Homo sapiens: one gene and its partner. The protein of the gene in region 1 interacts with the protein of each later gene in a biochemical or structural test. Each region holds a gene or a part of one and is shown in the gene's direction. Other genes may lie near its edges.

The links. Proteins that work in one complex are often made in the same cells at the same time.
Region 2: the proteins of ETV1 (region 1) and KAT2B form a complex in vitro, tested with the Homo sapiens proteins (one study listed by BioGRID).

Annotation. Positions count from the first base shown.
Region 1 is NC_000007.14:13,933,253-13,938,842, reverse strand, and holds part of ETV1 (ETS translocation variant 1), read left to right. Parts: intron 1-2,946; coding exon 2,947-3,135; intron 3,136-5,590. UniProt on the Homo sapiens protein: Transcriptional activator that binds to DNA sequences containing the consensus pentanucleotide 5'-CGGA[AT]-3'. Required for olfactory dopaminergic neuron differentiation; may directly activate expression of tyrosine hydroxylase (TH).
Region 2 is NC_000003.12:20,042,402-20,046,945, forward strand, and holds part of KAT2B (histone acetyltransferase KAT2B), read left to right. Parts: intron 1-4,544. UniProt on the Homo sapiens protein: Functions as a histone acetyltransferase (HAT) to promote transcriptional activation. Has significant histone acetyltransferase activity with core histones (H3 and H4), and also with nucleosome core particles.

The DNA of each region.
Region 1 (5,590 bases):
AAGCAGCTTTTGAAAGTTCCCATTAGAATGAATGCATTATACACTTTAGATAGAGAGTTTGCAGAAAAAAATGAAACATTTGGCAGGTCTGAGCAGTACATTAGTTATCTGCCAGGCTTTGCAGATGATCTGTAAGATGAGTTCATGGACAATTGCAATAAAACTGGAATTTCATAAGGCTTAGCAGAGGCTATTATCTATTAAAAAGCTGGTTGTTCTTCTGATGATAATAAAGGGTGGTGCAGTAAAAGTGCATTGTTCATTTATTAGAAAATTTGATCACATATATGTTCATTAAAAACCCTTCAAAGTAAATTGTATGATGCTACTTTTCATATTGGCCTTTAATTGCATAAAGAAAAAGTTGGCTGTCTCTACTGAGTATTATCACTCTCAATTACAGTAGAAACTTAGTTCTTAAAAGAAGTTAGTTTGCAAACTTACACAAATTATTCCAAATATTCATACTGTTTTATAAGTTATATCAATTCAGATTCATTGTACATTATGACCCAAAGGGGTCTTCTATTAAATAATTCCTCAGATATTTATTGCATACGCTGTTTATGTCCAAGATATGTAAGATTCTAGAAACATAGGCCAGACGCAGTGGCTCATGCCTATAATCCCAGCACTTTGGGAGGCAGAGTTGGGCGGATCACCTGAGGTCGGGAGTTCAAGACCAGCCTGACCAACACGGAGAAACCTCGTCTCTACTGAAAATACAAAATTAGCTGGGCATGGTGGCGCATGCCTGTAATCCCAGCTACTACAGAGGCTGAGGCAGGAGAATCGCTTGAACCTGGGAGGTGGAGGTTGCTGTGAGCCGAGATCGCGCCATTGCACTCCAGCCTGGGCAACAAGAGCGAGACTCCATCTCAAAAATAAAAGAGAAACATAGACTTGTGCCATTATGGCAGCTGACCAATGCTCAGATATTTTATTACCATTTGTTCTTGCAAACTTGTCTTTTATATTTGCTTTTCTAAGAGGTTCACCAGAGCCTGAAATTATGAGCTAGCTCAATTGAAACTGCAAAGTTTTATAAAAAAGGTCTCTTGTAGAAGGTAACTATTAAAGCATAATGAGTTCAGATAAGACAGTATTGATCGATCTGAGTTTTATTTTATAGTTTAGTTTTGTTTTTGCATTTTCTCCTTACAAGTACTGTGTATCCACAGCATAATTATTTAACATATTGAGGAATTTCTAGTCAATGGCAGTTAGATATAGAATTGTCATTGCCTTTCAGCATTAATCAGAATTGTGACTGTGAAATCATCACTGTTTTATATGCCATATCTGACATCCACAAATCAATAATAAAGGAATTGCCTGAATATTTTGTGTTTCTTTTGGGGGATGAAAAGTCCCCACAGTGATATATGGCATATGCAATAAATTCTGGTACTTCCATCGCTATACAGAAAATATTATTGAGTACAGCATTTCATGGGGGAATAGTATCATTTGTTTCTTCATTCATGAGAATGAGTTAGGTGAACCATTTCACAAAAGAAGTGGGTTTTTCTTCAGAAATACTGGTAAAGAACATAGGTGGAACCAAACATGCAATTCATTATATGAACACTGTTGACTTTGCTTTGAAGCAAGAGCTGCCTTGTGCAGCATATATTCCTTTACTCCTTGTAAAAGATTTTTGCAGCTGGATATAATTCCGTTGCATTGATGGAGCAACAGAATAAATTATTACATAATTTAATTCAAAAAGAAATATTTCTTTCTAAAGAAAAAAGTGTACTGATGATTGCTTTTTATTTTATTTTACTTATTTTTTTTTGAGACAGGGTCTCACTCTGTCAGCCAGGCTGGAGTGCAGTGGCACAATCTGGGCTCACTGCAACCTCTGCCTCCCGAGTTCAAGCGATCCTCTCACCTCAGTCTCGTGAATATCTGAGCCTACAGACATGCATCACCACGCCCAGCTAATTTTTTGTATTTTTAGTAGAGACGGGGTTTCACCATGTTGCTCAGGCTGGTCTTAAACTCCCGTGCTTAAGCGATCCTCCCACCTCAGCCTCCCAAAGTGCTAGGATCAGGGGCATGAGCCACTGCGCCCAGCAAAATGAAATACAGCATTCTAACTTAGAAATGCCCTGTTGTTAAAAAAAATTTAAGAAAATTTAGTTTTAGTAAAATATTTTATAGATGACCAAAATTAGCTAAATCACATTCCTGAAAGTTACACCTAGGAAAGCAGTTTAAAATCATAATGTAAAATCAAGCTTACTCATTTTATTCTTCTGTAACTGTGTTTAGAAGTTAGACTATAATAGGATTTTATTCCTAATGACATTATTTTTTACTTATTCTCTAAGAAAGTTTAAATATATCAGACATTTTAATTTACCTCATTAATCTTCATTATCCCATGTGGGGAAGTTAATGCCAAGCATCATTTATTTAATATAATAAAATGAAAATAAAGTAAAAGCATTGCCTTCTTAAAATCCCACCACAAATAAAAGCAAGCCAGGTGTGGTCTCTGCCTTATTAAGCTGATGTTAGTTCTTGTTTTAAAATCTTACATAATATAAAAGAAGAATATAATATCAGAAGTATTTAATGATTTAGGAAAGATCTATCAAACTTTCTCAAATAGATATATCAAGAATAGATGGAAAAAATACCACTGCTTTTTTGGACGTAATTTTCCCTGTACTAAGTTGTTTGTATATGCATTAAAAATACACATTTAATATTTGTTCTGTTACAAGGTTTTGCATTAATCATCCTATTTTCTGTTTAAGGGTGTTGTGATTTTGAAGTTTATCTGTTCTGGATTTAAACAACAATAGCAACAACAAAGTTTTCATTTCCATTTGACTTAAGTCTAAAATATCTTTTCTTCCTTTGGATTAGAAACTTTTTTAAAAAATTGCTCCAAAGAAAGAAATGTTCTCTCTTCTTTTGTCCCCTGGGTAGTGCCTATGATCAGAAGCCACAAGTGGGAATGAGGCCCTCCAACCCCCCCACACCATCCAGCACGCCAGTGTCCCCACTGCATCATGCATCTCCAAACTCAACTCATACACCGAAACCTGACCGGGCCTTCCCAGCTCACCTCCCTCCATCGCAGTCCATACCAGATAGCAGCTACCCCATGGACCACAGGTAACCTGCAGATACCAGTTTTCTAGAAACTGTTTTTTGCGTTCTTGGAAAAAATTTCTATTAACAATTCTGAAGGCCTAGAGTAGATTTAAGGTGAGCCTATTAATTTTGCACATCTGTGCAAAATATTTTTAGAAAGAGCTCACTCTATCTATACTTATAATTTGTGGAGAAAGTCATTTATAAACATTCCTTTTATAAACATTTAAATTGGTTGCTAAAATGGAAAATTAATCTATCTACTGACATTTGAGCATTTCCCTTTCGCTTTGCTTGAATTAAATTGCTTCACTTAAACTTTAAATCAGATCATCCCATTTTTATGAGCATATGTGTGTACTTGTTCTGTAAAGTTAGGAGACTAATTTTAGTAGGTAGCTTATGGAATTAGGTTTTCTACCTTATATTGAATGGTTCAGCTGTACATAGTTTTGCAGAATATAACTTATTTGATTAAAACTGTTGACCATCTTTTCCAGGTGATTAATATTTAATATCAGTAGACGCATGACTCTGGACACTGCGAATATACAATTAAAGAGATAGAGACTCAATTAGTATTACTTAGAAAGGAGCAAGGCAAGAAGCATAGCATAGATCTAAGGAGAATACTGCGTTAGGTAATTCATGACTCCTTGAGATTAAGAAATTCATATTTAAGTAAAATACTAAATAAAACCTGTAGAGGTTCTGAGATGTACTACCTTAATATACAGCTTAAAATCAGGTTGCTTATATACAGCATCTCTCCTTCTTTATCTCTTCTGCCCTGTGCTTCTGTATGCAGTGGCGTGCTGGTAAATGTTTAGCAACAGCCTGCATGAGAGAAAAACAAAACGCCCTCATCAGTAGCTTTTGCTGGGTCTGTGATGTACATATTGCTTTCATGGCCCACTACGAGCCATCACTGTGAGAACCCTGAATGCCGAGTTGCAAAGATGCAATAGCACAGCGTAATGTAGTATTTCTAGCATACGGATACCAGAGACATAAGTAACCTCAGGTGTATAATTGGTAATGAAATGTAGTAAGATAATTAGAAAGTGATGAGTTTTGCATTTTTATCTTCTGTTTTTAACATATTTTTTGATTGTGAAGTTATATAATTTAACTGTTAATAGTGGCTGTGTTTAAGAACTGGCTCAAAAAATTCCTGCAAGTTTGACAATAAGTCAGTGCAAACTGGCCCTGAGACACCGTTGTAAAAATAACTCAGCCAAAGGAATCTTCTAGATCAGCAGAGGAAAGCAGAAGATGTGCCACTGGCAACTTTCTGAAAATAAGGGAGCACTCAAATGTGCTTTTTATAGGTTTTTTCATGGGACTCAATCTCAAATTCAGAAACTCATTTTGCTATAAAGGGCGTAAGATGAAAGCGTTCTTTACAATGTGATACAAAGCCTTGTCTTTTCCACCCTTGGTTCCATCACTAAGTCCTCTTGTGGGGTAGTTATTAAATGCTTCCTATTATCTTTTTCTTCTCACCCTGTAGCCTTGAGACTTTGTCAGAGTGCAATGGTATGTGCATCTGTGTAAACAGTTTTGTAAATACAGATGAAAGAATTCTTATTGCAGGGTGGGCCATTAAACAGATGGACATTGTGCAGAGCTGAAAGGGAACAAAAAAATATGAACAAACCAAGTTTTATTTTCTCCACTACTGGTGACTTCTGAGTTCTTGATAACTGAATCTCACTCTTCTGATCAGTGCCAGAATTATAGATTGTATAATTCGCTTTTTGTGCAAACTGGTTATTTCTTAGGGAAGGTGCCTGCTGAATAAGCAGTGTGCCTGGTTTTAGGTGACCTAACTTGAAATGCTTTAGCCAAATTCATTTTAGTTTCTCTACTTGAAGTCAGATATTTGAGACTGAGAACAGCCGGCCCGGAACTCCAAGAGGGAAGCTCGGGGTCTTTTCCCACTGACCCCTGACTGAGTTTTGAGGACAGTACCAGCTGGCCAGTCCCAGGAAAATCTCTAAAGCCGTATGTTTCTGAGGAGGATTTCTTAGAGGGCTCTGGCCAACAAATGACAGTCCCTCAGTTATAAATGGCAAATTTGCTCTGGGAACAGATCCTTTCCCCAAAACACCCCCTCCAGCCAGGCACCCCACTTCACTCTGGGAATGCTTTACGGCCAACTGGCCTGCACCCTGCTTCCTTTCCTCAGCCTCACTCTGCTCCTGGGGCCAGCCCTTTGGCACTTTTTCCTGAACCCACTGTGCAGGAGCCCTGTCTCTCTTTCTCAGTGTTTCCACCACTTACACCCTGTTTTTCTTTATCTGGGAGTTCATCAGCATGTTCTCCTTATCTGTTAACTCCTTTCCAGAAGCTTCTTGAATCACTTTCTCTTTACCATTGGTCAGTGGCTCCTAAGAATTGCACCAAAACCTTGCAAATTCCTGAGAAGCATGCGTGTTTGATATATACATGTTCCCCAGCAACTTCCAACTGG
Region 2 (4,544 bases), on another chromosome or scaffold:
CAGAAGGGCGAGCTATGTACAGAATTAAGAACAAGGTCATGGGTACAGGGCATACTGCTTGGGTGATGACTACACCAAAATCTCACAAATCACCATTAAAGAACTTATGTAATCAAACACCACCTGTTCCACAAAAACCTATGAAAAAAAAGAGCAAGGTCAATTACTTGGTGGCCTTGGCGTTTCGCAGCCAAAGTGGGCTCATGCAGGAACTGTCTCAACTCAGTGTTTCTGTTCTGGCTTTATTTTAAAATTTATTTATTGGGTTCTCATCACCAGCACCTCTTAAAGACTTCCTGCTGCCTGCTGTAGCTTTAATATCTGAAAACTTTCCTGAAGTTTTGGTTTTGTCTAAAACCATGAGCATATGTGGCCTGCATTGATATTTTTGATCTTTTCAAATTTCCATGGGTGAGATGTAGCACCACTTCCAAGTGGGATTTGAGTGTTTCCTGGTCACTTTCATGACCCAACAAGAGAAAGAGAAAATTTATTTTAACGTCTTTTTTTTTTTTTGAGACAGGGTCTCACTCTGCCACGTAGGCTGGAGTGCAGTGGCATGATCGTAGCTCACTGCAGACTCAACCTCCCTGGGCTCAGGTGATCCTCCTACATCAGCCTCTTGAGTAGCTGGGACTACAGGCATGCGCCAGTACACTATTATTATTATTATTTGTATTCTTTGTAGAGATAGGGTTTCACCTTGTTGCCCAGGCTGTTCTCAAACTCCTGAGCCCAAGCAATTTGCCCGCCTTGCTTCCCAAAGTGCTGAGATTATAGGCATGGGCCACCATGCCTGGCTGAAAGTGTTCATTTTTATGTATCCATTCATTCAGTAAATATTTAGAGGGTTACCAACTGGGTGTCAGGCATTGGGCTAGGTGCTGGGCCTATGACACACAGAATTTGTCCTTCAGGAGTTACTTATTGTGTGTGTGCACAAGTGCATGTGTGTGTATGCATGTGTTGGGGGCCTAGGGATGAGGGCAGTGAACCAAAATTACAGAGAAGTTCAGAAAAACTACTTTCTTGGAGTAGTTGCGGACCCAGAGCAGGACAGTTCATAGACTGGGGCACTGGTAGGGTGGGATTGGCTTCCTGGAGGAAGTGTCAGTGGCTGCTAAGAACTCTTGGCAGGGCAGAGTGGGGTGGGGTGAAGCTTCTTGTAGTGGAGAAACTGAAAGCAGTTGTGGAAGCTTGGAGGTGGGCCAACTGAGCCAGACCTTTGTTGCCTAGGGCCACCGGCTGGGGTGCGTGGCCAAGAGGGCACTGAGGAGTGCAGGAATCTTAACCTGGAGAGTGACATTATCTCAGATTTGCTTTTTTTAAAAAAAAAAAAAATTTAACTGGACTTGATTGGGTACGAGGGAGTGTAAGAGAGCAAAATCTGTGGTTCTCTCTCAGCTTGTTTCTGCACTTAATATGAGCAAGCCCAAAAGGACAGATTGCTCTACCTTTGCCACAGGCCCCTTGGCAAGTTAGATTAGAGAGATTAGAGAATGAGGAGGGATCTAGAAAGAGATAAGGTAGTTCACTGGGGGGCTTTTGAAAGAAAAACAGGTCCCAGGCCTGATATAAATCTGGCCTTTAAACTTCACAAACGAAACCAAAAAAGAAGGGAGCTAAGTCAGCCAGGGTGACGTGCCACACCCCAGAGAATAGAAAAAGAAAAAAAAAAAAGAAAAAAGAAAAGAAACAAACAAACTTGTTTCGCAGGATCCAGATCTTTGAACTGTGTCCTGGTAAAGGTTGCTTCAGAGTCATTTTGGTTCTGTGTTCATTAAAAATGTAGATCTAGGCCAGGCGCAGTGGCTCAGACCTGTAATCCCAGCACTTTGGGAGGCCGAGGCGGGAGGATCACTTGAGTCCAGGAATTTGAGGCCATCCTGGGCAATATAGTGAGACTTCGTCTCTACAAAAAATAAAAAATTAACCAGGCGTGGTGGCAGAGGTTGCAGTGAGCTGTGATTGCACCGCTGTACTCCAGCCTGGGTGACAGAGCAAGATTCTCCCTAAAAAAAAAAATAAATAAATAAATAAAATAAAGTAGATCTGACCATGTTATACCCACACTTCAGGCCCTTTAATTTCTCTTTATTGTGGTCCACAAGGCCCTGCATGGCCTGGCTACTGCTATCTGTGGCTCCTTATCGAGGGTTCAGGCACATGGTTTCCTTTCACCTAGTCGGGGGTGAGGTGGGGTGAGGGGCTTTGCACATGCTGTTCACTGGGACTGGAAGCTCTTCTTTCCACATTTTAAAATTAACTCCCAACCCTTCCTATAGAACTCAGATTCCTTGCCTTTCCTTTACCCCCCTGAGCAGCCTTCCCATTAGAAATTATCCAAATTCATCTGTACTCTTCCTGGTGCTTATATTATGATTTTTATGATTTGTATGATTATTTGATGTGCATTTAGAATCTTTGAATAGATTCTTAGCCATGCGGTTATTGACTAAGCGAATGAACCAGAGAAGAGAAAATGGAAGAAATGATTAGCTGTGATGTTAGCAGTTGTGGAATTTTAACTTAATCACTTCTTGACAACTAAGTAGAGATTTGTCATATAGGACAGTTCTAGGTGTCCCACAGATATTGATAGGATTGGGTTATTTATTTATTTATTTTTTTGAGACAGGGTCTCGCTCTGTCACCCTGGCAGGAGTACAGTGGCGTGATCTTGGCTCACTGCAACCTGTACCTCCCAGGCTCAAGTGATCCTTCCACCTTAGCCTCCTGAGTAGCTGAGACCACAGGCATGCACCACCATACTTGGCTAATTTTTGTATTTTTTTTGGTAGAGATGGGGTTTCGCCATGTTTGCCAGGCTGGTTTCCAACTCCTGGGCTCAAGCAATCTGCCTGCCTCCACCTCCCAAAGCGCTGGGATTACAGGTGTGAGCCACTGCACCTGGCCTATTTATTTATTTATTTATTTATTTATTTATTTATTTATTTATTTATTTTAGAGACAGGGTCTTGCTCTGTTGCCCAGGATGGGGTACACTGGCACGATCATAGCTCACTGCAGCCTTGAACTCCTTGACTCAGGTGATCCTCCCACCTCAGCCTCTTGGGTAGCTGGGACTATAGGCCTGCACCACCATGCCTGCTTGGGATTGGGTTTTTAATGTTATAAAAGAAACCCCAAGTGAATGTATGAGTAGGCCAAATCCAAATCTTCTTGAATTAAAGTATATCATCTACTAACTTCAAAAGAGAAACAAAACCCATTGACTAACCCTTCCTAAAGGAGCAGGCCATTTATATTAATACGTAAGAGGAGGCAATAGGGTATAGTGGCTAAGAACATGGGCTTCAGAGTTCAGGCTAATCTGAATTCAAATTTTGGGATATCCAGCTCTGCAACCTTGGATAAGGATTTCATTTAAGCCTTTATTTCCCTGTCTGTAAAGGAATGATGTTACCCGCCTCATGGCATAACAGTGAGGATTTAAAATGGGCTGTATTAGACATCCAGCATGGTGTCTTGCCCATGGCAAGCCCTCAGAAGGTAGGGGAGACGCTGTTAACTTGAAAGTCAAGTAAGAGCAACAGACTCAGTCCTGAATCCACCCCAGCTCTGCCACTTGTGTGATCTTAGGCACAGGTCACTTAGTTTTTCTCTGAGCCTCAATGACTGCATGTATAAAGTGGTGATCATGACTTCAACCTTAAAGTTAAAAGAAAAAAGTGTCCCCAGAATTCCTAGAACATAAAGATGCTAGGTTAATGCTGGCTAAATAAACGGAATTGCCTGGTGCTTTACTCGTATATCAGAGTCAGTGGCCACAAAGCATTTATGGAGAACCCAGTTGCTTGGGTTCTCGGCAAGGTGCCACATTTAAGGAGTTTCATGGGTACAGGACTATAAAATTAGTCTTAATTGAAAAAATAGGCCCAGGGCATGGTGGCTTGTGCCTGTAATCCCAGCAGTTTGGGTGGCCAAGGCAGACGGATCACTTGAGCTCACGAGTTCGAGACCAGCCTGGGCAACATGGTGAAACCCTGTCTCTACAAAAATTACGAAAATTAGCCGGGCATGATGGTGCGTGCCTGTAGTCCCTAGCTACTCAGGAGGTTGAGGTGGGAGGATGGCTTGAGCCTGGGAGGCAGAAGTTACAGTGAGCTGAGATCATGCCACTGCACTAGACCTTGTCTCAAAATAATAATAATAATGATTTATAATCTAGAAGTAGCACTGGTTGTAGAATATACAGAGAGCAGAGGTAGATGTGCCACCACAAAACAAAAAGCATCCTCTGTTGGCTAAGGGCTGGTGGGTGGGGCACTAGAACAAGCCTTATAGTTGGAGAGCGCCCCCAACACCTTTGTATTTGTCAGTCACTCCCCCAGAGAGCAAATTGTCTTTTTCATTTGTCAGCATTTAGAGCAGTGGCTCTCACCCAGGAGCTATTTAACCTCCCAAGGGACATTTGACAATGTCTGGAGACATTTTCAATCTTTGCAGTTGGGAGGAGGGAATGCAACTGGCAACTAGTGAGTGGAGGCCAGTAATGTTGCTATACATCCCACAATGCACAG